Linked DNA regions of Homo sapiens: region 1 is linked to region 2. The links come from fine-mapping of genetic effects on gene expression. A gene starts in region 2. The other region holds a variant in brackets. All regions are shown on one strand. Distances are from middle to middle. Region 1 overlaps TCTN1 (tectonic family member 1). Region 2 holds the start of GPN3 (GPN-loop GTPase 3).

The links. PIP is the estimated chance that this variant, and not a neighbour inherited with it, causes the effect.
Region 1: its variant is fine-mapped to the expression of GPN3 in whole blood (INTERVAL, PIP 0.96).

Annotation. Positions count from the first base shown.
Region 1 is chr12:110,616,266-110,631,387 of GRCh38, reverse strand. TCTN1 (tectonic family member 1) reads right to left here. Exons shown (of 15, transcript NM_001082538.3): 2 at 11,432-11,552; 3 at 4,896-5,026; 4 at 2,470-2,621. It also overlaps the pseudogene RN7SL387P. Among named protein-coding and RNA genes, the nearest start is that of TCTN1, 9.7 kb to the right of the region's middle. RefSeq lists an enhancer at 11,636-11,855. The variant G/A (reference allele first, on the strand shown) is at 6,341.
Region 2 is chr12:110,460,370-110,475,491 of GRCh38, reverse strand. GPN3 (GPN-loop GTPase 3) reads left to right here and starts at 7,235. Exons shown (of 8, transcript NM_016301.4): 1 at 7,235-7,336; 2 at 10,278-10,386. The coding sequence starts at 7,289. It overlaps FAM216A (family with sequence similarity 216 member A), which reads right to left and starts at 6,647. Exons shown (of 7, transcript NM_013300.3): 1 at 6,474-6,647; 2 at 2,374-2,414. The coding sequence starts at 6,616. It overlaps LOC124903016 (a long non-coding RNA gene), which reads left to right. Exons shown (of 3, transcript XR_007063459.1): 2 at 4,676-4,853; 3 at 5,041-5,203. It also overlaps the pseudogene RPL31P49. RefSeq lists enhancers at 5,904-6,073, 6,994-7,123 and a silencer at 6,274-6,583.

The DNA.
Region 1 (15,122 bases), 160 kb before region 2:
TGCTGGGATTATAGGCGTGAGCCACCATGCCCAGCCAAGAATATTTTGTAAACTACAGCTCTAGGGCTGGGTGCAGTGGCTCACATCGTAATCCCAGCACTTTGGGAGGCCGAGGCGAGCGGATTACCTGAGGTCAGGAGTTCAAGACCAGCCTGGCCAACATGGTGAAACCCCGTCTCTACAAAAATACAAAAATTAGCTGAAGACCAGCCTGGCCAACATGGTGAAACCCCATCTCTACAAAAATACAAAAATTAGCTGATCATGATGGCAGGTGCCTGCAATCCCAGCTACTTGGGAGGCTGAGGTGGGAGAATTGCTTGAACCTGAGAGGCGGAGGTTGCAGTGAGCCAAGATCACACCACTGCACTCCAGCCTGGGCGACACAGCAAGACTCCATCTCAAAAACAACAACAACAACAACAACAACGCAGCTCTATCACTAGTTCTGACAAGTTGCTTTCCTGTGCCTAAGTTTTTCTCATCAGGTAAATGGAGACAATGGTGCATCCCTCCCAGGGGGGTGCATGAAGTAATGCCTGAAAAGCTCTTCACAGTGCCTGGCACATGGAAAATGCTCAATGGTAAATTTTATATTGACATGGGAAGATGCACATGATTTATCACTGAAAAAGGAATTTTCTAGAACAATGTGGATACCTATAAATCCCACTTCTATACAACACCATATATACATTATAATAGACATATTTAAAAATCAGGAAGAATACACACCAATCTCTTCAAAGTGATTTGCAGTATGAATATTAATGGATACAGGGATCTTTCAACTTATATGCCTCTATATGTTGAACTTTTAGAACTAGTACATGTTGCTTTTATACTTTGCTTTTAAAAAGATGCTTCCAAAAGAGTTAAGGTTCATTCAGTTAATATGTGTCCCATTTAAAGGTGTACTACTGAATAGACATAAAACAGCACACATCTTCCAAAATCTGTAAAACTAAATACAATTTTGAGAAGATGACCAGACAACCAACCAATCTACTCCATGATCTCAGCAACATGCCTCAAGCATTTTGCTGCATCTTTTAAGGTTGAGGAGAACAAAGAACTCTGAAGAGACAAAATACAAGTTTATCACAGAATAAACAACCTTAAATCCTCTATTCAGAATTCAAATATTCAGTTTTATTTTTATTATTATATTTTAAGTTCTGGGATAACGGGTGCAGAACATGCAGGTTTGTTACGTAGGTATACACGTGCCATGGTGGTTTACTGCACTCATCAACCCATCATCTACATTAGGTGTTTCTCCTAATGCTATCCCCTCCCCTAGCCCACCACCCTCTGACAGGCCCCTGTGTGTGATGTTCCCCTCCCTGTGTCCATGTGTTCTCATTGTTCAACTCCCACTTATGAGTGAGAACATGCGATGTTTGGTTTTCTGTTCCATGTTAGTTTGCTGAGAATGATGGTTTCCTACAAAGGACATGAACTCATCCTTTTTTATGGCTGCTTAGCATTCCATGTTGTGTATGTGCCACATTTTCTTCACCCAGTCTATCACTGATGGACATTTGGGTTGGTTCCAAGTCTTTGCTATTGTGAATAGTGCTGCAATAAACATACGTGTGCGTGTGTCTTTATAGAATGATTTATAATCCTTTGGGTATATACTCAGTAATGGAATTGCTGGGTCAAATGGTATTTTAGGTTCTAGATCCTTGAGGAATCGCCGCACTGTCTTCCACAATGGTTGAAATAATTTACACTCCCACCCAACAGTGTAAAAGCGTTCCTATTTCTCCATATCCTCTCCAGCACCTGTTGTTTCCTGACTTCTTAATAATCGTCATTCTAACTGGCGTGAGATGGTATCTGATTGCAGTTTTGATTTGCATTTCTCTAATGACCAGTGATGATGAGCCTTTTTTCATAGGTTCGTTGGCCACTTAAATGTCTTCTTTTGAAAAGTGTCTATTCATATCCTTCACCCACTTTTTGATGGGGTTGTTTTTTTCTTGTAAATTTATTTAAGTTCCTTGTAGATTCTGGATATTAGCCCTTTGTCATATGGATAGATTGCAAAAATTTTTTCCCATTCTGTAGGTCACACGTTCACTCTGATGATAGTTTCTTTTGCTGTGCAGAAGCTCTTTAGTTTAATTAGATCCCATTTGTCAATTTTGGCTTTTGTTGCCATTGCTTTTGGTTGTTTTACTCATGATGTCTTTGCCCATGTCTATGTCCTGAATGGTATTGCCTGGGTTTTCTTCTAGGGTTTGTATGGTTTTAGGTCTTACATTTAAGTCTTTAATCCATCTTCAAATATTCAGTTTTAATTTTCATGATCTTTGATTTGTAGGCATGAACATTAAGTTTTTTAGTCTATAATATCAACTCTGTCTCAAGGAACCCAGTTTTCCTGGTAACCTTGAAAATTAACTTACAAGGAAAGATATTTGTGATGGGATGAAAAGAATCAATCAAGTTCAGGCTCACCTCATATTTAGCAGCAGTAGGAATATCCAGTTTGGTTGTGAAGGAAACATATGATTCAGCATTCAATGTAAAACCATCAGATGTTTTCATCAATGTATCAAAATTGTTTTCATCAGGTACTTCTGGATTAATAAAGGATAATGCAGGTTTATCTGTTTTTTAAAAAAAACAGTATTTTAAATCGGTATAAAATATATGTATAATATGTATGACCTATATAAAGGTTTTGGAAAGTTTTTAATAGCATCAAGGCTGATGTAAAAAACAAATAGTGTCTTGGCTGGGCGCATGGGCTCACGCCTGTAATCTCAACACTTTGGGAGGCCAAGGCGGGCGGACTGCCTGAGGTCAGGAGTTTGAGACCAGCCTGGCCAACACGGTGAAATCCTGTCTCTACTAAAAATACAAAAATTAGCCAGTCATGGTGGTGTGCACCTGTAATCCCAGCTACTCGGGAGGCTGAGGCAGGAGAATCGCTGAAACCCAGCAGGCAGAGGTTGCAGTGAGCTGAGATAGCGCCACTGCACTCCAGCCTGGGTGACACAGTGAGACTTCATCTCAAAAAAAAAAAAAAAAAGTGTATTTTTCCATATTCACTTCTCCCAGGATTTTTTAAAGCTTATTAAACAAACAGGACCTCCAGACTCAGCCTGCTTCTTCTAATAATGGGGAAGTAATAGTTTGTAGCACTTACAAGTAAACAGCACAACAGAAGCCAATAATAATCCGTCTATTTCTCTAGCCCCTGGACTGATGAGTTTGCTGTATCAACCTGTAAGGAGAAGCTCTCTCCGGATGGCTATGGGAATGAAAGAATCCGACTTCTACTCTCACACAGCCACCGTGAAAGTCCTGGAGTAAAATGTGCTGTGTACAGAAGAGAGAGAAGGAAGCAGGCTGGCATGTTCACTGGGCTGGTGTTACGACAGAGAACCTGACAGTCACTGGCCAGTTATCACTTCAGATTACAAATCACACAGAGCATCTGCCTGTTTTCAATCACAAGAGAACAAAACCAAAATCTATAAAGATATTCTGAAAATATGACAGAATTTGACAAATAAAAGCATAAACGTGTCTCTGATCTTTGATATCCTGATAACATTTTACATGTACATGTACTTTGGATCTAGACATATATTTGAGCTAAATGCTCAGATAAAAATAAAGATCCTGTTTTCATGCAAATATTCTTAGTAAAAATAAAAGAAAAAAGGAAATAGAAACCACAGGTAATGTTCAAAGCTGAGCCTGATTTTCAACCATTAAACCAGGAGGAAATAAAGTTAAAAAAACACATGTATATATAGAAACCTAGATTCCTATGTATGTCTGCATATTATAAACACTTTTAAGATAAGTATACGGTTTCGAAAGACAACTACACAATCATAATTACTTTTAAAGAAAATGTGCATGCCCACAGGTCTATAAAGTTACTTCCTATTACCTGTGAAATGGTCTCTAAAGATATACACTATACATATAGCAAAACAGAATAATTGCTTTAAATCTAACTGAGGGCTGGACAAGGCAGCTCACACCTGTAATCTCGGCATTTTGAGAGGCCGAGGCAGGAGGATCATTTAAGGTCAGGAGTTTGAGACCAGCCTCGCCAACATGGTGAAACCCTGTCTCTACTAAAAATAAAAAATTAGCTGGGTGTGGTGGCAGGTACCTGTAATCTCAGCTACTCGGGAGGCTGAGGCAGGAGAATCACTTGAACCCGGGAGGCAGAGGTTGCAGTGAGCTGAGAACGTGCCACTGCTTTCCAACCTGGGCAACAGAGTGAGACTCTGCCTCAAAAAAAAAAAAAAAAAGAAAGAAAGAAAAAATAGTAATAATAGGGCTGGGCACAGTGGCTCACACCTGTAATCCCAGCACGTTGGGAGGCCAAGGCAGGTGGATCACCTGAGGTCGGGAGTTCAAGACCAGCCTGACCAACATGGAGAAACCCCGTCTCTACTAAAAATACAAAACTGGCCAGGCATGGTGGCCCATGCCTGTAATCCCAGCTACTTGGGAGGCTGAGGCAGGAGACTCACTTGAACCCAAGAGGCAGAGGATTTGTGATGAGCCGAGATTGAGCCGTTGCACTCCAGCCTGGGCAACAAGAGCGAAACTCCGTCTCAAAAAAAAAAAAAAAAAAAAAAAACCACGCACACACAAAAATTATCCAGGCATGGTGGCAGGCACCTGTAATCCCAGCTACTCAGTAGGCTGAGGCAGGAGAATCACTTGAATCTGGGAGGTGGAGGTTTCAGTGAGCCGAGATTGCGCCACTGCACGCCAGCCTGGGTGACAGAGCAAGACTCTGTCTCAAAAAAACCATAATCATAATTATAAAATAAATCTGACACATTTTTCCATAACTTTGAGAAAAATTTTCCAGAGCTTCACAAAATATATCAATGTCAAATACTTACAGTTTGTAATATGAATGCAGAAAATAGATGGATTAATCTGGTCAACAAGTTCAAATACTCTTTGAGGTGGGTTTGCTGTAAAATTCAATGAATAGATGACTGCTTTTTGACTACAAAACTGGCTGTCGCCCCTGAAAATTAAAAAAATAATAATACAAAGTTACAAGACATAAGCACACAATCTTAGCAAAATTATTTTAAAACTGTCAGATGCTTGTACTGTACTATGTTAACAGTTACGTGGAGGATATTTATGAAAGCATGACGTCCCAGCTACTTGGGAGGCTGAGGCGGGAGAATGGCATGAACCCAGGAGGCAGAGCTGGCAGTGAGCCAAGATCGCGCCACTGCACTCTAGCCTGGGCAACAGAGCAAGACTCTGTCTCACAAAAAAAAAAAGAAAGAAAGAAAGAAAAAAGAAAGCATATTAGAATTGAATCCGGCTGGGCACGGTGGCTCACACCTGTAATCCCAGCACTTTGGGAGGCCGAGGTAGGCGGATCACAAGGTCAGGAGATGGGGACCAGCCTGGCCAAGATGGTAAAACCCCATCTCCACTAAAAATACAAAAATTAGCTGGGCGTGGTGGTGGGTGCCTGTAATCCCAGCTACTAGGGAGGCTGAGGCACGAACATCGCTTGAACCCAAGAGGCAGAGGTTGCAGTGACCCGAGATCGCGCCACTGCACTCAAGCCTGGTGACAGAGTGAGACTCCATCTCAAAAAAAAAAAAAAAATTGAATCCTTTTTTTTGAGATGTAGCCTCACTCTCCCAGGCTGGAGTGCAGTGGCACGATCTCGGGTCACTGCAACCTCTGCCTCTTGGGTTCAGGTGATTCTCCTGCCTCAGCCTCCCGAGTAGCTGGGACTACAGGTGTGCACTGCCATGCCTGGCTAATTTTTGTATTTTTATTAGAGACAGGGTTTCACCATGTTGGCCAGGCTGGTCTCAAACTCCTTACCTCAGATGATCCACCTGCCTCAGCCTCCCAAAGTGCTGGGCATGAGTCACCACAGCTGGCTGAATCCATTTTTATTTAGTTTATTCTGTGTTGAAATATTTTGCATTTGGGCCAGTCACAGTAGCATGCACCTGTATTACCAACTACTCAGGAGGTTAAGATGCAAGGCTCACTTGAGGTTAGGAGTTCGAGGCCAGTCTGGCAACATAGTGAGATCCTCATCTCTTTTTAAAAAAGAAAAAGCTTGGCATTTAAAACTTTTTCCTCTAACAGAAAAAAACAAAATTGAGACAAGTAGAATAACCTTTAAGGAAATCTTGTCAAGAACGTAGATCAGGGTATAATTTTTATGTCAGTGAACTTTACAAACTCTGATAGCATCAATTAGATAAAATTTTGCAGACCTTCAGATTGTTTAAAAGTACCCAGAATAGATCCAAATTCCTTGTCTTTAGAATAAAGCTGTCTTCAAAGGACTGTGAGA[G/A]TAAGAAAATGTGGAGTCATCTGGAAGGTTTAATGCTTAGAAGTTATGGTACAGGGCCAGGCACAGTGGCTCATGCCTCTAATCCCAGCACTTTGGGAGGCCGAGGCGGGTGGATCACCTGAGATCAGTCGTCTGGAAGGTTTAGTGCTTACAAGTTATGGTACAGGACCAGGCACAGTGGATCATGCCTGTAATCCCAGCACTTTGGGAGGCCGAGGTGAGCGGATCACCTCAGGTCAGGCATTCAAGACCAGCCTGGCCAACATGGCGAAACCCTGTCTCTACTAAAAATACAAAAATAAATTAGCCAGGCGTGGTGGCATGTGCCTGTAGTTCCAGCTGCTGGGGAGACTGAGGCAGGAGTATTGCTTGAACCTGGGAGGTTGCAGTGAGCCAAGATCGTGCCACTGCACTCCAGCCTGGGCGACAGAGTGAGACTCTCTCTCCCAAAAAAAAAAAAAAAAGAAGTTATGAGTTAAGTCTTCAACCAATCCCAGATTTGACAAATCCCAATCAATTTGCTATAGATACAGATACAGGCCAAGCACCATGGCTCATGCCTGTAATCCCAGCATTTTGGGAGGCTGAGGAGGATCACTTGAGGCCAGGAGTTCAAGACCAGCCTGGGCAACACAGACCCCTATCTCTACAAAAAACAAAGAAAAAATTAGTCCGGCATGCTGGCAGATGCCTGTAGTACTAACTACTTGGGAGGCTGAGGTAGGAGGACTGCTTGAGCCCAGGAGCAAGGTTACAGTGAGCTATGATCGTGTCACTGCACTCCAGCCTGGGTGACAGAGCAAGACCTATCTCAAAAAAACATAGAGGCTGGGCACAGTGGCTCACGCCTACAATGCCAGTACTTTGGGAGGCCATGGCAGGAGGATCACTTGAAGCCAGGATTTCAAGACCAGCCTGGGCCACAAAGTGAGATTTTGTCTCTAAAAAAAAAAAAAAATAGACAGATAGCTGGACAGACAGATAATAGTATAGAGATAGTCATAATAAAAATGGGACCATATTCTACATACTGTTTTAAGGCTTTTCTCACTTAATATATAATGCCTAATATGCACTTACAATATTATAAGTGGCTTCATCATCGTATACCAGCCTATTAATACCCCAATTTGTTTAACCAATATAGATATGGATATGGTACAGCCCAAGCACCGTGGCTCATGCCTGTAATCCCAGCATTTTGGGAGGCTGGGGAGGATCACTTGAGGCCAGGAGTTCAAGACCAGCCTGGGCAACACAGACCCCGATCTCTACAGAAAACAAAGAAAAAATTAGCCCGGCATGCTGGCAGATGCTTATAGTTCTAACTACTTGGGAGGCTGAGGTAGGAGGACTGCTTGAGCCCAGGAGCAAGGTTACAGCGAGCTATGATCGTTGGTTTAGGTTTAGGTTTCTAATTTTCCCCAATTATATGTAATGCTATAATGACAACCTTATACATACATCTTTATGACTGTCTCCAGTTGTTTCCTTAGGATATGTTTCCTGAACTGGAACTGCTAAACCAAAAGGCAGGTAACATTATTTAAAGCTTCTGAGACACACTCCCAGATTGCCCTCTAGAAGGGCACAATATACATTCTCACCAACACTGTAGTAAGAGTGCCTATTTCCCTGTACCCTTGCCAAGACTGGATATTATCATTCCGTTTTTACTGGGCCTTAAAGGATAAGTAGAAATCAGACAGACAGTAGGAATGGGAAGCAAATCCAAGTGCAAGAACGGCAATGGCCAAGGCTGGGTAACGACTCATGGTCTTTGGGAAACTCTGAGTACCAAGGTTGGGCTGGAGTGGATTTGAGATGGCTGGTAGCAGGTGATAGGCTCTGAAAGAAGGTGGGAATGAATCTGAATCCAGGCTAAGAAGCCTATAGATAATGAGAACTTCTGAAGGTCTTTTAGTGAGTGCTTGACAGGATGAGGTGTGAGCTCATAAAGCAGGAGCAGGGATGGACGACCACGAGGGCTAGAGTGATGGAAGGCTCCACAGAATGGGATTCCTTACTCCCCTCCAGTCAGCCACCTCCCCAATCCTGTGCAGTATTTCAGTATCATCATCAGATCTAGATACTTCTCCCTAGCCCCACTGTCACAGCTTTTGGGGAGGATGGGGAGGGAAACCGTTAATCCGCATCTGCAATAGCTTTTTACTTGGTTCTCTGCCACCAGGCTTGGCCTTGTGATCCACTGCATATGATGCTGCAGAATTACATAAGATGGGAATCTGATCCTCTTACAACCCAGGCCCTGTGGACTTCAGGACAGAGTCCAAACCCCTTAGCATATACACAAGGCCCCTGGGGACCTGACCCCTGATCTCTTTCCTACACTCCTCTCACCCCACCCCTCTTCTGGCCACACTGAGTTACCTGCAGTTAAGCAGGCCATCCCACATCCCCCCATCTCTGTCCACGCAGTTCCCTCTGCCTGGAATGCCCTTCCCCTCAGTCCATGCTGACCATCTTCCACGTGTCCTTCAGGACCCAGCTCAGCTCCTGTTTTCTGGGGAGCATTCCTTAGTGGGGCTGAGTTAGATGCCATTCCTCTGCCTTCTCATCGTGCTTGATGTAGAAACTGCCATCCACTCCTCTGTCTCCCTTACTCGACGGTAAGCTCTTTGAAGGCAGGAGAGTGCCTAACTCATCTTTATGTCCCTGGTGCTGGCATTCAGGAGGTACTCAAGAAAGGTTGGGAGAAAGGAAAGACTGCTGAGACAGGAAAAGGAAAGGAAGAGGCAAGGGTCAGGGGAGCCTCCAGGTTTTTGGCCTGGTGTCGGCCTAAAAGACTAATGGTAGAGGAAGTCAACAAGGGACACTAGGAAATCAGTTAGAGGTGGAAGGGAGAAATTCATTCATCCATTCAACTCATTATTATTATTATTATTTTTTTTTATGGAGTTTCGCTCTTGTTGCCCGGGCTAGAGTGCAATGGTGCGATCTTGGCTCCTGCAACCTCTGCCTCCCAGGTTCAAGCGATTCTCCCACCTCAGCCCCCTGAGTAGCTGGGATTACAGGCACCCACCACCACGCCCAGCTGATTTTTGTATTTTTAGTAGACACGGGGTTTCACTATCTTGGCCAGGCTGGTCTCAAACTCCTGACCTCAAGTGATCTACATGCCTCAGCCTCCCAAAGTGCTGGGATTACAGGCGTGAGACACCATGCCCAGCCAATTCAACTCATTCTTAACGAGGGCCCACTATGTGGCAGGAGCTCTACTAGGTACTAATGGTTAAGGAGAAAAGAGATCTTCCAGGTTAGGCGCAGTGGCTCACGCCTGTAATCCCAGCACTTTGGGAGGCCGAGGTGGGCGGATCACGAGGTCAGAAGTTCAAGACCAGCCTGGCTAACACGGTGAAACCCTGTCTCTACTAAAAATACAAAAAATTAGCTGGGCATGGTGGCACACGCCTGTAGTCCCAGCTCGTTGGGAGGCTGAGGCAGGAAAATTGCTTGAAGCCAGCAGGCAGAGGTTGCAGTGAGCCGAGATGGAGGCACTGCACTCCAGCCTGGGCAACAGAGCAAGACTCTGTCTCAAAAAAAAAAAAAATAGCCCCAAGTTGGAGCAAAAATGTCACTTTCAGGCTCCTGTATTTACTAAAGGGAGGAAAACAGAATGACTTTCAACAAATACTGAAACATGCTACAGGCCAGGTAGCCAGAAAATTAATCTGACTACATTGCCCTGTTCTCTGAGCATTTTTACAATACTAGAAATAGGCTCAAAATCCCATTGGTCAATAAAATAGTTTCTCACAGGAAAAACCCATTGTACTTCTTAAAAGGGTTCACCTATCAAGTATCAATTGCTAAAACTTGCTATAAGGCTAAATTTAAATTAGCTATCTCTGAATACTAAGTTGGTCCCATCCTGAATTAATGAGCCTCTTCTAAGTGCTCCTAGTTTTTCAAAAAGCCTTGAAGCTGGGCGCGTTGGCTTACACCTGAAATCCCGGCACTTTGGGAGGCCAAGGAGGGCGGATCACCTGAGGTCAGGAGTTCGAGAGCAGCCTGACCAATATGGTGAAACCCCACCTCTACTAAAAATACGCCAGGCATCGTGGCGTGCACCTGTAGTCCCAGCTACTCAGGAGGCTGAGACAGGAGAATTGCTTGAAGCCAGGAGGCGGTGGTTGCAGTGAGCCACTATCACACCACTGCACTCCAGCCTGGGCAACAGAGCGAGACTCCATCTCATAAAAAAAAAAAAAAAAAAGAAGCCTTGAAACCTCAATTATAAGAGATCATTCAGAACAGATTATTTATTTACCTTATAATCAGCTGGAAATGTCATTTTTCATTGTTCTATACAATGCGAACTGTGAGAATTCCTGGTAGATTTACATATCAGAAAAGTACAGATTTCTTATCTAATTTTTTGTTACAAATACTATGTCCACAACAAAAGCTGTGAAATTAAAATGCACTTTTCACCCTAGGCTATACTAATTCACTGATACAAAAAATGTGACCACTGTCTACAACTCAAATTGAAATGTAATTCAATCTTCAAACACAGAGGTTTCATTACATTATTTTAATGTATATTCTCTCTTCTCTTTTGCCTGCACAGTCACCTGGCTGAATGCAAATAAGGGATAGCTACTTTTTTTTTTTTTGAGACTGAGTCTCGCTCTGTCACCCAGGCTAGAGTGCAGTAGCGCAATCTCCACTCACTGCAAGCTCTGCCTCCCGGGTTCACGCCATTCTCCTGCCTCAGCCTCCCGAGTAGCTGGGACCACAGGTGCCCGCCAACATGCCCGGCTAATTTTTTTGGATTTTTAGTAGAGACGGGGTTTCACCGTGTTAGCCAGAATGGTCCCAATCTCCTGACCTCGTGATCCACCCACCTCAGCCTCCCAAAGTGCTGGGATTACAGGCGTGAGCCACTGCGCCCTGCCAGGGATAGCTACTTTTTTACATATTTGTTTGGACGGTATGGCTTCAGAACGACGTAAAACACTGGAAATCAGGTTTGGGTTTTTAAGCCTGGGAAAGTTTTCCCTTTCTCCAAATTGTATTATCCTGGTCAAATTTTTTCAAAATTGCATGTGTCATACGTAAACTTACGTGACAACTGGAACTGAGCAGGCAGAAAAGACACTGAAATCCACGGAGCTGCAGTCGGGATCACAGCAGCAGTTGATGTCACACTGTGCTGGGGATAAGTCACAGACACAGAGAACAGCAACTGCAGAAAAAAGAGGGGTAGGATCCAGAACATCACCATCAGCAGGTGGTGACTGCCCCCTGCCACCACAGTGTACCATAAGTCAATTTCATAAAAAAGATCCATTTTATTTTTCCTATTGCACTTTGGGGGAAATTTGTGAAGTGGAAATGAGTCAGTTTGAGCATCCCACAATCAGAGGTTTCCCCAAAGTGGCTAATGATCTGACTCGCTTGGAAAGTTCTGTTAGTGCTTTGCCTACAGAGATGCTGATTTCGTAAGCTGAATATGAAACCCAGGCATTTGCAGTTTTCAGAAACTTTCCAGGTGATGCTTATAATTAGACAAGTTTAAGAACAAGCACCCCTAAACCATTTGCCTGACCATAAGAACCACCAGTTTAAAACTCCAAAGTCCTTAAGCCCCTCCTCTAGAGATTACGATTCAGAGGAAGGGCCCACTTAAACCTTCAGGAAAGAGACTTTTCAATCTTGCCCCCTCTTCACGTATAACCTGCTGCTTTAAAGCTGAACTCATATTCACAGACCCTTGGCCAAGAATCATACCGGCTCAGGTGCTCAGAATGTCTTTGGTGATTTAGACAATAAGGTATGAGGGCGGGGTAGGAATCTCCCCCACCTCACAACTTTTAATTATTTTATTTATTTATTTATTTTTTAAAGGAGTTTCGGCTCTTGTTGCCCAGGCTGGAGTGCAATGGTGCAATCTTGGCTCACTGCAACCTCCACCTCCTGGGTTCAAGCTATTCTCCTGCCTCAGCCTCCTGAGTAGCTGGGATTAAAGGCATGCACTACCACGCCCAACTTTTTTTTTTTTTTTGTATTTTTATTAGGGACGGGGTTTCACCATGTTGGCCAGGCTGGTCTCAAACTCCTGACCTCAAGTGATCTGCCAGCCTTAGCCACCCAAAGTGCTGGGATTACAGGTGTGAGCCACCACTCCTGGTCAACTTTTAATCATTAATAAGGATGATTTTTCTTTGCCGCTTTGCAACAAAGATGATTATCTGGATTTTTAATTCTCTATCTTATTCTGTCAAATAAGGACAAGAAAACCCTTTTAAAAAATAGAGAATGAATTTATAGTTGCAATTATTGCTGGAAGGGAAGAAGTAAGATCAACCTTCAATCTTATCTGTAACGTTTTCTTTTTCAAAAGAAGATTTCAAACCAGGCACGGTGGCTCACATCTGTAATTCCTGCACTTTGGGAGGCGGGCAGATCACTTGAGGTCAGGAGTTTGAGACTGCCCTGGCCAACATGGTTAAACCCTGTCTCTATTAAAAATACAAAAATTAGGCTGGGCGCGGTGGTTCATGCCTGTAATCCCAGCACTTTGGGAGGCCAAGGCAGGCGGATCACAAGGTCAGGAGATTGAGACCATCCTGGCTAACACGGTGAAACCCCGTCTCTACTAACAATATAAAAACTAGCTGGGTGTGGTGGCGGGCACCTGTAGTCCCAGCTACTGGGGAGGCTGAGGCGGGAGAATGGCGTGAACCCAGGAGGCGGGGTTTGCAGTGAGCCGAGATCGCGTCACTGCATTCCAGCCTGGGCGACAGAGCGAGACTCCATCTCAAAAAAAAAATTCAAAAATTAGCCAGGTATGGTGGTGGGCGCCTGTAATCCCAGCTACTCAGGGAGGCTGAGGCAGGAGAATCGTTTCAACCCAGAAGGCAGAGGTTGCAGTAAACTGAGATCACACCACTGCACTCCAGCCTGGATGACAGAGTGAGACTCCATCTCAAAAAAAAAAAAAAAAAGATCTCAAGCCAAAAAACAAAATTAACAAAAAAGGAATCTGAAGCAAATGCTGCTAGTGTCCACCCAACATTCTTATTTGTACGTATGAATTATTTCACGATAAAAAGGAGCTTTAGAAAAATGTACCCCACAGCGGCCGGATGCAGTGGCTCAAGCCTGTAATCCCAGCACTTTGGGAGGCTGAGGCAGGTGGATCACGAGGTCAGGAGGTCCAGACCAGCCTGGCCGACATGGTAAAACCCCGTCTCTACTGAAAATACAAAAATTAGTCGGGCATGGTGGCACACACCCGTAGTCCCAGCTACTCAGGAGGCTGAGGCAGAAGAATAGCCTGAACCCAGGAGGCAGAGTTTGCAGTGAGCCGATATCGTGCCACTGCACTCCAGCCTGGGTGACAGGGCAAGATTCCATCTCAAAAAAAAAAAAAGAAAGAAAAAGAGAAAAGAAAAATGTATCCCATAGCTCACGCCTGTATCCTAGCACTCTGGAAGGCTGAGAAGAGTGGATCCCCTGAGGTTAGGAGTTTGAGACCAGCCTGGCCAACGTGGTAAAACCCCATCTCTACTAAAAATACCAAAAAAATTAGCCAGGCATGGTGGCGCGCGGCTGTAATCCCAGCTACTTGGGAGGCTGAGGCAGGAGAATCGCTTGAACCTGGGAGGTGGAGGTTGCAGTGAGCTGAGACTGCGCCACTGCATTCCAGCCTGGGCAATTAAAAAAAAAAAAATAGTACCCCGTAAAAGGTATAATGCACTCTGCAAAAAAAATGTGTGAGGTGAAGGGGAAGGTTTTGTTAATATGCCATGATTTCTTAGTCTAAGACACAAAAGCTTTCCCCCTAAAGTTTACAGTGCTTCTCTCTAGTTGAGAACTCTTCTATGTGCCTAGTAAAATGACACAACTTATGCACGCTAATGTAAAAAATTAAAAGTGCTTTAGGTTCCCTGTATGTTTAAAATTACTATCTTGCTTTGTTTTCAAAACTTAAAGCCCTTATAGGCAGCTGTAAGACTACTAAGGACGAAGCAATAGTGTTTAATAACTCCACTTAGGAAAAAGGTTTCTACCCAGGATGCGAGTGTACTTAATCATCCACCAAGTAGCTGTTGAGCCCCTGTCAGGTCTAAGCAGCACTCAGCTGCCCTTGCCTCCTATCGCATCTGCACACCTGGCTTGTAGAGCAGGGTACTAATGAACAGAGCCCAGATTCAAGATGAAGGGTTATCACTCTTCTCCACCAACACTGCCTGAAGCCACCTGCAATTTTCCATCCAGTTCTCCACTCACAGTCAGCCTCCTGCTCCGATATCTACAAGTTGCGTGTCCTAAAATTAGGCAAATAATTTATCCACCTGAAAAATGGGGATAACAGTACCCTCATCATGGGGTTGTTGTAAGGATTAAATGAGATACATCATAGGTGAAATGCTTAGCACAGTGCCTGCCACACAGTGAACAGTTAACAAATGAGTTATTACTGTCACAAGTCTAAAGAGAGGTCCTTTAAAAAGGTGAAGACAGGTGACTGGCAGAGTGCAGTGGCTCAAGCCTGTAATCCTAACACTATGGGAGGCCTAGGTGGGCAATCACTTGAGGCCAGGAGTTCAAGACCAGCCTGGGCAACATGGTGAAACCCCGTCCCTACAAAAAATTAGCCGGGCGTGGTGGCATGCAGCACCTGTAGTTCCAGCTACCCGGGAGTCTGAGGTGGGAAGATCACCTGAGCCTAGGAGGTCGAGGCTGCAGTGAGCTGTGATCATGCCACTATACTCCAGCCTGAGTGACAGAGTGAGACCCTGTGACCAAA
Region 2 (15,122 bases):
GGCGGGAGGATAACCTGAGGTCAGGAGTTAAAGACCAGCCTTGCCAACATGGTGAAACCCCGTCTCCACTAAAAATACAAAAATCAGCCAGGCATGGTGGCGTGTGCCTGTAATCCCAGCTACTTGGGAGGCTGAGGCATGAGAATCGCTTGAACCTGGGAGACCGAGGTTGCAATAAGCCAAGATTACACCACTGCACTCCAGCCTGGGCGACAGAGTGAGACTCCGTCTCAAAAATAATAATAACAGTAATATCTAGAGTCACTGCCAGTAGTTGGCTATCGTGTTTATTTTAAATAATAGAATGAATCCTTAAGTTCAACTATAGAGGAAGACAATCAAGCACTTGCTGAATACTGGCCCTTTTCCCCTCCAATTATAAACAGCAATACACATTGTTCACTGCAGATTAGTGAAGTAAACTAAGTGTATAAAAAGAAAATAAAAACTTTTAATTCCACAATCTAGTAGTAATTTTTTTTAATTAATTTTTTTTTTTGAGATGGAGTTTCACTCTTGTTGCCCAGGCTGGAGTTCAATGGCGCGATCTCGGCTCACCGCAACCTCTGCCTCCCAGGTTCAAGCGATTCTCCTGCCTGGAGTAGCTGGGATTATAGGGATGCACCACCACACCCAGCTGATTTTTTATTTTAGTAGAGACGGGGTTTCTCTATGTTGGTCAGGCTAGTCTCGAATTTCTGACCTCAGGTGATCTGCCCGCCTCAGCCTCCCAAAGTGCTGGGATTACAGGCGTGAGCCACGGCGCCCAGCATTTTTTTTTTTTTTTTTTTTTTTTTTTTGAGACAGAGTCTCGCTCTGTCGCCCAGGCTCAAGTGCAGTGGCATGATCTTAGCTCACTGCAACCTCCGCCTCCTGAGTTGAAGTGATTCTCCTGCCTCAGCCTTCCGAGTAGCTGGGACTACGGACGTGCACCACCACACCTGGCTAATTTTTTTGTATATTTAGCAGAGACGGGGTTTCACCATGTTGGTCAGGCTGGTCTTGAACTCCTGACCTCAGGTGATCCACCTACCTCGGCCTCCCAAAGTACTGGGATTACAGGTGTGAGCCACCGTGCCCGGCCTAGTAGTAATTATTTTAAAACACTTTGACATATTGCCTTTCAGAGTTTTTACTAGGCATATATTTGTTTAGAAATTTTTCTTTTATATAACTAAGTCAATCTAATATACTGATAATTGTTAATATTTCTTTATTTCCCTCCACATCTGGAATATATTACTAATAATTATATTGTTTTGTGTTTCCTTTCTTTTTTACACTGAACTATAATTCAGTAAGAATTTTGGTGAGGAATCTAAATTAATGAACCCAGACTGCAACACATTTTTTAAATGACCATATTATTTATTTATATATGTATATATGCACACATATATGTCTGTATATTTTTTTCCCAGGTAACTGTAATGACTATATATTTACCAAGGAAAAGCAAAGTGAACCCAGGTTTATGTATCACTGAATTTAAATGAAACATTTAAAACCTATTATAACTACTATACTTAAAATATATATACATACACACACACTCCTACAGTCAGTTAATTCCAGCTCCTCTCCCAAGGGAAAAAAAGCAATTAGTGAGAGACCTTTGGGGGATTGTTTTACCTACTCTCTTAACTCCAGCAGAGAAGAGGTGAATACTTTGAAAGCTCTATTCTTTATTTCAAGTGAGAGGAAAACATCAGCACTGAGAAATATTTTGTATTCTTTGAAGCTATTCAATTTAGAATTTTTTTCTTCTATCCATGTATAAACCCCAGGCTGTGCTCTGTGCTTTTCAACCAACGTCAGCTATAAATACAGTTCTTTTAGGATTCACTGCTAATTTTAAAAATGCTTGATGTAAAATATACTGTACCAACAGACAAGAAAAACCTCCCTGATTGCTCTTTGAAATCTTAAAGACTAAGTTCACCAAGGATGCTAATACAATCTATTTTTAACTCTATTGTGGGCTGGGTGTGGTGGCTCATGCCTGTAATCCCAGCACTTTGGGAGGCGGAGGCAGGTGGATCACCTGAGGTCAGGAGCTCCAGACCAGCCTGGCCAACATGGCGAAACCCTGTCTCTACTAAAAATAGAAAAATTAGCCAGGCATGGTGGCACGCATCTGTAGTCCCAGCTACTCAGGAGGCTGAGGCAGGAGAATCGCTTGAACCCAGGAGGCAGAGGTTGCAGTGAGCCCAGATCGCACTACTGCACTCCAGCCCAGGCAACAGAGTGAGACTCCATCTCAAAAAAAAAAGAAAAAAGAAAAAAACTCTATTGTGTAAGTAGTTACAGACAAATAGGCTTCTCAGAACCATGTTACTTATAAGTATTATCTGCTTTATATGCACTACTCACCAGAACCTTTGGAATTCTGGTAACAAGAGTATCCAGCTGATCTGTTGAAAAAATAAAGCATATAAATAATATGTAATAATTACAATGTTACAAGCACTGAACAACATATTTCAATTTTTTTTTTTTTTTTTTTTTTTTTTTTTGAGACAGGGTCTCACTTTGTCACCCAGGCTGGAGTGCAGTGGCATGATCTCAGGTCATTGGAACCTCTGCCTCCCAGTTTCAAGTGATTCTCCCACCTCAGCCTCCCAGGTAGCTGGGACTAGCGCTGCTACACCCAGCTAATTTTTGTATTTTTAGTACAGACGGTTTCACCATATTGGCCAGGCTGGTCTCAAACTCCTGACCTCAGATGATCTGCCTGCCTCAGCCTCCCAAAGTGATGGGATTAAAGGTGTGAGCCACTGCACCCAACCAACATATTTCAAATTTTAAAAAAGGATAGTGTTGCATATTATTTTTACTTTTCATGTTTCCATCAGAAATAATGTCTTACAAATTTTTTCCTATAATTCTGGTTAAATCCTAATGGCTCCAAGATTTTTTTCTTTCCTTTTTTAGAGATGGGGTCTCCCTCCTTCACCCAGGCTAGAGTGCAGTGTCGTGATCATAGCCCACCGCAGCCTCAAAATCCTGGGCTCAAACGATCCTCAGCCACCAAGTAGCCAGGACCACCAAAACGCCTGGCTAATTTTTGTACAGATGTGAGCCACCATGCCTATCCTGGGTCTTAATTTTATAGCTTCCTAATCTCATTCCTACAGTGAGCTCAATAAAGTAGTTGGGGCTCCTGGGCTATCCATGTGATTATCTTGCTGTCTTTATTTTTAATGAAGTGATTTGGGTATTGAAAAGACTGTTCTTTTTTTTTTTTCTTTTTTCTTTTTTGAGGTAGAGTCTTGCTCTGTTGCCCAGGCTGGAGTGCAATGGCGTGATCTCCGTTCACTGCAACCTCCGCCTTCCAGGTCCAAGCAATTCTCCCACTTCAGCCTCCCGGTAGCTGGGATTACAGGTGCCCGCCACCACGCCCGGCTAATTTTTCCATCTTTAGTACAGACAAGGTTTCGCCATGTTGGCCAGGCCGGTCTCAAACTCCTGACCTCAACTGATTCGCCCGCCTCAGCCTCCCAAAGTGCTGGGATTACAGGTGTGAGCCACCACGCCATGCCGAAAGACTGTTCTTTGAATAGTAATTAAGGTGTGCTAGAACTAATAAGTTGGTCTGTAATGTTTCTAATTTCGTACAAATTCTTTTTCTTTTCTAAACTTAAGACAAAACAACTGATCCTCATCCTGCAATTTATTCAATGACCAAGAGTTCATGGGCCAGGCGCCAAGTTTATAAAGTTTTTGTTATGAACTTTTCACCGCCGCTTCCTTTGCTATTTTATTCCAAGCCACCATATCGTTTTCTTGTATTCCAACTTCTTAATTCTACGCTTGCTCCTTCTAGTTTATTCTCCAACTAGCAACCAGCGTGATCCTTTTTAAGTAAAGTAAGATCACATCACTTCTCTGCTGGCAACCCTCCTGTGTCTTCCTTTCTCAAAGGTTGACTTTATAAGGTATGAGGGAGTTTTGAAGGAGTGATAGAGCTGCTCTGTATCTTTAGTGTGGCAGTGCTTACATAGCCATGTGCATTTGTCAAAACCCATCATATTATACATGAAAAAGTAAGACTTTAATTTGTGTAAATTATGCCTCAATAAACCTGACTTTAAAGAAAAAAAGTGCTGGGCACGGTAGCTCCCGCCTGTAATCCAGCACTCTGGGAGGCCGAGGCGGGTGGATCACGAGGTCAGGAAATCGAGACCATCCTGGCTAACATGGTGAAACCCCGTTCTCTACTAAAAATGCAAAAACTTAGCCAGGCGTAGTGGCACGTGCCTGTAGTCCCAGCTACTCAGGAGGCAGGAGAATCGCTTGAACCTGGGAGGCGGAGGTTGCAGTGAGCCAAGATCACACCACTGCACTCCAGCCTGGGTGACAGAGCGAGACTCCATCTCAAAAAAAAAGAAGAAAAAAAGTAAGGAGTTCCGGAGTTCCCATTAGTTAATAATGGGATTTTTGGCAGATCACTTCCCCTTTCAGATTAGTAAATATGACCGGAATTGATGATTTTTAAGACCCCTGCCAGTGCCAACATTGTATCATGTAGCATAATAAACCTGATTCTAGTTTGAAAATTTTATTTTGTATTTCTGGGAATATAAGCTTTTCATAAATTAGTCTTGGTTTGTGTTTTTTAATGGGGTTCCTTAAACCAAACTGAAGGGCATACTGTCTTTTTTTTTAATTGTAGTTTTAAGAGTTTGGATAAACTAAAGGAAGCATGGAGATGAACGACAGGCGGAGATAAAAGGAAAGGACAAACAACCTCTTTGTGCCTGTTTTGTCATCCATAAAGTGGGGATCATAATAGAACCTTCCAGGATTACAGGCTCATGCCCATCTCTACTAAAAATACAAAAATTAGCCAGGTACGTGGTGGCGCACACCTGTAGTCCCAGCTACTTGGGAGGCTGAGGCAGGAGAATTGCTTGAACACAGGAGGCGGAGGTTGCAGTTAGCTGAGATCGTGACACTGCACTCCAGCCTGGGTGACAGAGGGAGACTCTGTCTCAATAAAAAAAAAAAAAAAAATTCACGTATCTCCTGATACACCAGGATCCTGCAGTCGGCCAAGGACTGTGAAGAACAGAAAAGAAACCCAAGACTCCATCCCATCTTTAAGAAGTCTTCAGTAGCACCAGAGACAAAAAGGACGGCCATGCGGGCGGATCACGAGGTCAGGAGATCGAGACCATCCTGGCTAACACGGTGAAGCCCCGTCTCTACTAAAAATACAAAAAAGTAGCCGGGCGTGGTGGCAGGCGCTTGTAATCCCAGCTACTCCAGAGGCTGAGGGAGGAGAATGGCGTGAACCCGGGAGGCGGAGCTTGCAGTGAGCTGAGATGGCACCACTGCACTCCAGCCTGGGCAACAGAACGAGACTCTGTCTCAAAAAAAAAAAAACAAAAAGGATGGCCATGGGTGCAACAGGGGCCCTGACTGCGGGTTGTACTGAACGGCAAACATATCGCAGTTCTTGCTTTTAGGGAATAAAGTAGGGAGAGGAAGAGGAGGTAGAGTCTCCAGCAGTGACTTCAACAGCTCGCTGTCTTCACTATCTAGGAAATAGGTGTAAAAACCTGCTCAAAACGAAATAGATTTGTGAAAAAAGGAACTTCAGTGTGAAGAAAATGTCAAGATCAAGGCACCTCGGATATTCAGTCATTGGTCTCATTGGCGATTAGAAATCCTCGTTTGAGGTCGGGCGCAATGGTTCACCCCGTAATCCCAGCAATTTGGGAGGCCGAGGCGGGCGGCTCACTTGAGGTCAGGGGTTCGACACAAGCCTAGCCAACATGGTGAAACCACCTCTCTACTAAAAATACAAAAATTAGCCGGGCGTGGTGGCAGGCGCCTGTAATCCCAGCTACTCGGGAGGCTGAGGCAGGAGAATCACTTGAACCTGGGAGGCTGAGGTTGCAGTGAGCTGAGATCGCACCACCGCATTCCAGCCTAGGCAACAGAGCGAGACTGTCTCGCTCTCAAAAAACAAGAAAGAAAAGAAAAAAAAAGAAAAAGAAATCCCCGTTTGACAGGAAGGTGGCTCATGTCACTAGAGGGAAGGAACTGGTTTATGGGCCTGGATGCCCCCAGTTGAACCGGGGGACATCTTCCTCCTCTGTCCCTCCCGCCTCGCCTTTCGGTGGACACACAGTCCTGTGCCAGACAGCAAACGTCCCAGCAGGGCTCGCAGCGCCCCCTCGGGGCAGAGAGATGCACGCGGGCGACTGTCGCAGTCACCTCGTGGCCACTGCACCAAACGCTCCTCCGAAGCTTCCCTCAGAGACCCTCCCTCAACCGCGAGGCAGTCCTCCCCTCTGCCCTCTGTCCACAACAAAACTGCTCCCCGCCTCTCACTTGAGGGCACCGGGGCCAGCCCCCGAGACGAGAGGTCGGCCGCAGCCCTCCTCCACGGGGCTCACGACCCGGGGGCCTCACGACCCGGGGGCCCCATGCTGCCACCCTTACCCCGGGGCCCCCAACCTCACCCGCCGCCGCCACCCTCGGTCCCGGCCACAGCGGGCGGCTCTGCAGAAGAGCTACGCTCCGTCCAGTCGGACCCCGGACCCTGGCCGGGCATCTCCGCGGCGCCGAGACCGCGAGCCGTGTGCGGGAGCAGCTGTCCCAGCATCCCTCCCCCGACAGCACGCGTGCGTCAGGCTGCTGGTATTCCGGAGAGGCGGCTCGGATGCTGGCTTCTCGCCCCTCCGAAGCCGTTCGGACACTGCCCGAACAGCTTCGGGAGAGCGGGGCGGGCAGATCCGCGACCCCGGAGTTACGGTGGGGGAGGGGCAGGAGCGCTGCGGTCGCTGAGCGTTTGCACGTTTGCACCTCTCTGTGGAAGCAGTGCGTCACAGGAGGGAAATATACATGCTCCCCAAAACAAGAGGTGCCTTCCACTTCAGTATTCCAGATCCTCAGCACATTTGCAAATCGCGAGGGTCACCATACAGGTCAAACGTCTGCACGCAAACCACGGACCGAAGCACGTGGCGCAAGGATGCGGAGCTTTATCTGTTGTCCGTTATTACTCAGGTATCCAAGCTTAGACAGCATCCCAACGGCCGATTTCCATCAACTACTTTTGCGCACGCGCAAATCCTCTCCCTCGCCCCTCCCCTTTTTTCTCAGGACGCGTTTCTCACGGGATTTGGCCCGCGGGCTGCCCCGTAGTAGGAGGTGTGGTAGAACTGGAGGCGTAGAAAGAATGTGGATTGCGATTGGTTCGCACTTCACTTTCCCGGAGCTCAGTGGGCGTCGCGCGAAGGCTAAGGGAGTGTGGCGGGCGGCTCCGGGAGCCAACATGCCTCGGTATGCGCAGCTGGTCATGGGCCCCGCGGGCAGCGGGAAGGTGAGGATCTGCGGGGACAAGGAGAGAAAAGTAGGAGTTCGTGGAAGGCGGGAGATTGGGTCCTGAGGGAGTGAGCCGGCGGGTGTGTGTACTGGGAACCCTGAGACCCCACGCAACTCATTTCTGCTGTCTGGCTTCACGTTCTTTTTTGTTGTTGTTTTGAAAGGGAAATAATGGTAGTTGTTAATATTTATTGTATACTTAAGCCCCAGGCAGCAGATGAAACGCCTCGCTTATTTCTACAACAACCCTGTGAGAGAGATCTCATTTTTCTCATTTTACAGAAAACGAGATACAGAAAGGTTAATTAAGTTCTTTGCCCCGCAAAAAAATATAAATCCAGTTTTGTCTCAACTCCAGAATCCGGCCCTGTCTCGCTCCCAGGAGGGTAAAGTGGGGTCTCATTAATTACTGTTTCTCAGAACTTGGGACATGGACTTTTGGTATTTAAGGTGCTTTTAGGTGGTAGGTGGTACATGGACCCCACATTAAGGAGCATCAGATAATGTGTTAGGGAAATTGTTCCCTTTTCATTTCTCTTTCAGTTCTCAACTTCGCATTTAGGAGAAGTTGTGCTCGGTGCTAGTGTGTATCTTCAGCACTTCTTTAATCCCCAGGTCTTTTCAGAGAGCAGTTCTTAGTCTCAGAGCTTTTAATAGGCACCTGTATTTAGCTAAAAATAGAACATTTAAAGATTTTATATAATTTTATGTCTAATTTCACGTTATGTCAAATATAAGTGGTTTTCAGTTTACAGTAGGGATAAAATTTTTTCTTGTAAACAAATATTAAGGGAATGTTAGGAACATTCAAATACAGTGAGAATGGTGAAGATATGGATCAAATAACATATGTGTGGGAAACATAGCCAGGCGTGGTGGCTCACGTCTGTAATCCTATCACTTTGGGAGATGGAGGTGGACGGATCGCCTGAGCCCAGGAGTTTGGGACCAGCCTTGGCAACACGGCGAAACTCTGTCTCTACAAAAAAATGCAAAAATTAGCCAGGCCTGGTGGCAGGTACCTCTAGTCCCAGCTTCTCGGGAAGCTGAAGTGGGAGGATTACCTGAACCCAGGAGGTTGAGGCTGTGGTGAGTGGTGATCGTGCCACTGCACTCCAGCCTGGGTGACAGAGGTACTGTCGCAAAAAAAAAAAAGAAGAAGTGTGGAAACACTAGAGTCTGTGGAGGTGTTGTGTGGCCTCAGTCTTTAACAAACACATTGTTCTAAGCTGTTGACTTATTCTGGGTAAAAACATGTACATGTAACTAAGATACCTATGGCCTTTAACTTACCCAGAGTCTGTAGTCTTTTGGGGAAGACAAATAGATGACCTGTCAATTAAGATACAGTGTGATGTGGCCAGGTGTGGTGGCTTAAGCCTGTAATCCTCGCACTTTGGGAGGCTGAGGCCAGCAGATCACTTGAGCCCAGGAGTTCAGGGTCAGCCTGGGCACCATGGTGAAGCCCTGTCTCTACCAAAAATACAAAAATTAGCTGGGCATGGTGGCGAGAGCCTATAGTCCCACCTACTCGGGGGGCTAAGGCTGGAGAATCGCTTGAGCCTGGGTCAAAGCTGCAGTGAGCTATGATGGTGCCACTGCACTCCAGCCTGGGTGACAGTGAGACCCTTTGCAAAAAAAAAAAAGATACAGTGTGTGATGTATGGAGAGGGCATTCCAGACAGAGACAACAGTATGTGTAAAGGCACTGAGAGGACAGCATGATGGATGTTTTTTCTATAGTCTATTTTAATTTTTGGGCTGATTGTATTAAACAAGTATCTTTATAAGCTTTTGATGCTTACTATCAGAAACATTCCTTGAGTACGTTCTTTATCCCAGGCACTGTTTTGGGCCCTGGGGGTTGTATGGGGAAAAAAACATGCACACACAAAATCCGTGCCCTTGTGGAGCTTATCTTTAAACATAATAAGTCAATTAGAAACAATTATCAAGTATTTATTATGTACTAGGTATTGCGCTAGTCCCTGTGCTTGGGAAACTGAATAAGACACATCTCTGCCTTTAAACAGAGTATGACACAGACAAGTAGCCTAGAGACTTTTTTTTTTTTTTGAGCCAGGAGTCTTGTTCTGTCATCCAGGCTAGAGTGCAGTGGTGTGATCTCAGCTCACTGCGACCTCTGCCTCCCGGGTTCAAGCGATTCTCCTGCCTCAGCCTCCTGAGTATCTGAGATTACAGGCATACGCCACCACGCCCAGCTAATTTTTGTATTTTTAGTAGAGACGAGGTTTCACCATGTCGGCCAGGCTGGTCTCCAACTCCTGACCTCAGGTGATCCGTCGACCTCAGCCTCCCAAAGTACTGGGATTACAGGTGTGAGCCACTGCACCCAGCCCGAGATGTTAACATAGTACGGTAACAACTACATAATGGATAAAGAATTATCTAAACCAAAAGTTACAAACTGATAGCCACCTCCAGACTATTTATTGATCTTGGCGTTCTTTCATCTTGGAATGCTCTTCCCCTTAGGTTGGCAAACTCCTTCTCATATACTCATATCTCCCCTACTCAGAGACATCATCCCTGACCATCCTACCTAAAGCTTTGTTTGCACTGTACAAGTCCTGGTAGAGACACTGTGTTAGGTGTTACACTATGTAACCAGAACTCTTCCCTTTAAATACCGCTTGTCACATTTAGAACAGTAAGGAGCCTTAGTGATTATGGAGGACATCCCAGTTAGAGACACGAAAATTGAAGGGCAGAGTGGAGAAGTAAATTCCCCAGAGGTACCCATGAGTCTAAGTCAGGTTTGAATCTGCAGCCCAGTCAGGTATCTTTTTCCCTTGTTGTCAGTCAGCCTCTTGGTTGATGAAGGCATAGTTTTGACCTTAGTGGATAGTATTCCAGAGTATGGAAGGTAGCACTACACTACCTGTTGCTTTAACCTCTCATGCCTTGTGACATTACAGAGCACCTACTGTGCCACCATGGTCCAGCACTGTGAAGCCCTCAACCGGTCTGTCCAAGTTGTAAACCTGGATCCAGCAGCAGAACACTTCAACTACTCCGTGATGGCTGGTAAGTCCTGAGCAAAGGCTCCCCCCACCTTCAGGAACAGTAAGGGCTGGGGAGGCAGTGAGTACTAGCTGCTTAGCACTGATACTTATTATAGTCTGGATCCCTGGTGTTATGGTAAATAGCATGAGCTTGTCATTTGGTCACATCTGTTCATGGTGATATGTGTGACAGTATCCTTTCTTGGTCTTTGATGTAAGATTTAAAAGTAAATGGGGCCGGGCGCGGAGGCTCATGCCTGTAATTCCAGCACTTTGGGAGGCCGAGGCGGGTGGATCACGAGGTCAGGAATTTGAGACCAGCCTGACCAACATGGTGAAACCCTGTCTCTACTAAAAACACAAAAAAATCAGCTGGGTGTGGTGGCATGTGACTGTAATCCCAGCTACTCAGGAGGCTGAGAAAGGAGAATCGCTTGAACCCAGGAGACAGAGGTTGCAGTGAGCCGAGATTGCGCCACTGCACTCCAGCCTGGGCAACAGAGCGAGACTCCATCTCAAAAAAAAAAAAAAAAAAAGTAAATGGACACTTCCCTCAGCACCCTTTCATTCTGTCCCTTTTGTCCTTAGTCCTGCTGTAGTGAATCATGTGGTATATTGCTGATCACTATAAGTCAGGAGCCTGGGTTTGTTTTTTTTAATTCTTTCAATTTGTTCATTCAAGTGTCTGTTGAACACCTGTTTTACGCCAGACACCGGAGTTATAGCAGAGAATAATACAGACATTATCCCTGCCCACACCAACCCTTTAGGAAATAGGCAATAAACAACATGATGAACATGTTACAGAATGTGATGACTGCAGACAGGCTCATGAGAAGTACTCATTGAGGTTGCTTTAGCTAGAATTGTCAGGGAGAATGGTGACTCTGAGGAGGGGATCTTTGAGCCTAGACCTGAAGGATGGTAATATGCTCCTCAGGCTGAGGAAAGTCCTTCCAAAATGAGGGAACATTTAGATCAATAAATATGCCAAGCTGGGTGCAGGGACATGTGCCTGTAGTCCCAGCTACTTGGGAGGCTGATGTGGGAGGATCACTTGAGCCCAGGAGTTCAAGTCCAGCCTGGGCAACATTGCAAGATCCATCTCTGAAAAATAAAATAAATAAATAAATAGCCTGGAGGTGAGAAAGGATTTGGTATTCTCCAGGAAAGCTAAGATGTCAGTGAGCTAAAGCGTAATGTCTGAAAGAAAGAAGTGGGTAGGGGCTAACAGGACATGATAAGATGGGATTTTATCCTGTTGTCAGTGGGGTGCCACTAGAGGGTTTTAAGAAGAGGAAAGGATTGACATTTGATACACGTTTTGGGGTTTTTTTTTTTTTTTGAGACAGGGTCCAGCTCTGTCGCCCAGGCTGGAGTGCAGTGACACAACCTCTGCCTCCTGAGCTCAAGCCATCCTCCCATCTCAGCCTCCCAAGTAGCTGGGACTACAGATGCGTGCCACCATGCCTGGCTAATTTTTATACTTTTTTTTTTTTTTTTTTTTTTTTTTTTTTTTTTGTAGAGACAGGGTTTCACCATGCTGCCCAGGCTGGTCTCAAACTCCTGAGCTCAAGCAATCTGCTGGCCTCAGTCTCCCAAAGTGTTGGGATTAGAGGCGTGAGCCACTGCATCCGGCCTTTTTTTGTTTTTGTTGTTGTTGTCGTTTTGTTTTTGAGACAAGGTCTCACTCTGTCACCCAGGCTATATAGTATAGTAGCCTGATCACAGCTCATTGCAGTCTCAACCTCCTGGACTCAAGCAATCCTCCTACCTCCCAAGTAGCTGGGACTACAGGCACACACTATCATGCCTGGGTAATTTTTGTATTTTTTGTAGAGGCGGGGTTTCTCCATGTTGCCCAGGCTGGTCTCATTGCCCAGGCTGGTCTCGATTTCCAGGCTGGTCTCAAACTCCTGGGCTCAAGTGACTCACCCAGCTTGACTTCCGAAAGTGCTGGGATAATAGGCATGAGCCACCGCACTTGGCCTGATTTATGTTTTAAAAAATAACTCAGGTGCTCAGATGAAAAATGGACTCTAGTGGGTTGAGAGTAGAAGTACAACCTGCATGGCTGGGCATGGTGGCTCACGCCTGTAATCCCAGCACTTTGGGAGGCCGAGGCAGGCGGATCACAAGGTCAGGAGATCAAGACCATCTTGGCTAACACAGTGAAACCCCGTCTCTACTAAAAATACAAAAAACTAGCCGGGCATGGTGGCGGGCGCCTGTGGTCCCAGCTACTGGGGAGGCTGAGGCAGGAGAATGGCGTGCACCCGGGAGGCGGAGCTTGCGGTGAGCCGAGATCGCGCCACTGAACTCCAGCCTGGGCAACAGAGCGAGACTCCGTCTCAAAAAAAAAAAAATACAAAATTAGCTGGGTGTGGTGACACATGCCTGTAATCCCAGCTACTCTGGAGGCTGAGACAGGGGAATCGCTTGAACCCGGGAGGCAGAGGTTCTGGTGAGCCGAGATCGTACCATTGCACTCCAGCCTGGGCAACAAGAGCAAAACTCCATTTTAAAATTAAAAAAAGAAGTACAACCTGCACTGCCGCTGTTGTAGTTAGCCAGGTGTACACCAGGACTAGGGTGGTCACGGTGGAGATGTAAGGAAGCAGACAGATTCAATATATTTTGCAAGTTGAATTAACAGCATTTTGTGGGGGATTGAACCAAGAAGGCATAGCAAAGTAAGGAATCAAGGGTGAGGTCTTACAGCTTTGTTCAGTGTATGATATAATTTCCTGTGGAGGGAGACAGGTCGTTTTAGGTTTGGGGACGTTCTCTTTGCACTCACTAAGTGCAAAGGGAAACTTCTGATTTCTGTTAATGAGTGAGCAGGTTGCGGGGAGGCAGATTGAAGGGAGAGGAGGAGATGTGAAATGCTTTTCTTTGAGAAAAAAGGCATTGTATTACTTTGGAACCATTTGGCTGCAGCAAACAGAAACCACTCTAAGCTAGCTTAGTTAAAAAGAGGACTTAGGATGGGCGCTATGACTGACACCTGTAATCCCAGTACTTTGGGAGGCCAAAGCAGATGGATGGCCTGAACCCAGGAGTTCAAGACCAGCCTGGGAAGCATGGTGAAACCCCATCTCTACAAGTCAATACAAAGATTAGCCTGGCATGCTGGCGGGTGCCTTTATTCCCAGCCACTCAGGAGGCTGAGGTGGGAGGATCACTTGAGCCTACGAGGTCAAGGTTGCAGTGAGCCATGATTATGCCACTGCACTCCAGCCTGGGCAGCAGAGTGAGACCCTGTCTAAAAAGAAAGAAAGCCAGATTGATTGTCCCAATTTGGATCAGTTATCTGTTATTGATTGCTGAGGGAGGGGGTAGGAAGGTGTTGTCAGTATAAATGTGACTGTGAATGAAGCTCAGTCCTTTGTGAATGGAGAATGTAGGTTTGAGCACAAAAATAAGTAAAAACCTAAGGTAGAAGATTCTATATACTGATTCCCCAAAATTAGTAAGATAACCATACCAGAATTTTTTAAGCCTCTCCTGTTGGTGATTTTTTTTTTCCTGAGACAGTCTCTCTCTGCCACCCAGGCTGGAGTGCAGTGGTACCATGTCATCTCACTACATCCTCTGCCTCCTGGGTTCAAGTGATTCTCCTGCCTCAGCCTCCCGAGCAGCTGGGATTACAGGCACATGCCAGCACACCTGACTAATTTTTCTATTTTTGTTTGTTTTTGTTTGAGATGGAGTCTTTTTTTTTTTCAATTTTATAACTTTATTTGATGTATTTGACGATCAGTGATTAGTTCTCATCGACATTGTCTGTAGATTTTTGAAAGTGGTGACAGGTACATAGGTAACCAAAGTATATGGCTTATTTGGTGAATCTTCATCCTCATTACGTTTTCTGGACAGCTGCACACGGATTCAGTATGGGACATTCCTTATTCCTTTGGCCCAGACAGCTTTGTTGAGCCTGGTATCAATGCGCACATCTGGAGTTCCCATCTCCTTCATGGCAAATTTCTGAATCTCTTTGAGTGCCTGAGGGGCACGCTTCTTGAAGCCCACTCCATAGATGTGCTTGTGAATGTTGATGGTGTATTCTCGGGTTACCACTTCGTTGATGGCAGAATGGCCCTTTTTCTTCTCGCCACCCTTCTTTGCAGGAGCCATTCTGCTGGGTCCAAGTTGGAAAGTGAGATGGAGTCTTGCTCTGTCGCCTGGGCTTGAGAGCAGTGGCGTGATCTTGGCTCACTGCAACCTCTGCCTGCTGGGTTCAAGTGATTCTCCTGCCTCAGCCTCCGGAGTGGCTAGAACTACAGGCGTGCGCCGCCATGCCTGCTAATTTTTGTATTTTTAGTAGAGATGGGGCTTCACCATGTTCGCCAGGCTGGTCTCGAACTCCTGATCTCATGATCCCCCCACCTCGGCCTCCCAAAGTGCTGGGATTACAGGCATGAGCCACCATGCCCAGCCTAATTTCTATATTTTTAGTAGAGACAGGTTTCAGCATGTTGGCCAGGCTAGTCTTGAACTCCTGACCTCAAGTGATCCGCCTGCCTCATCCAAAGTGCTGGGATTACAGGCAGGAGTCACCGCACCCAGCCCCTGATGGTGATTTTGATATATTATCTCATAGTTCTCATCCTTCTAACCCAGGATAAGGAAAGTGAGGCTCAAGGAGGTGAAATAGTTTCCTTAGTGTCATTGTGTTAAGAAATGGTAATCTGTTTTCTTTTTTTGGTTTTGTACTTTTTTGGAATAGGTAATACATATTCACATGGTTCATAA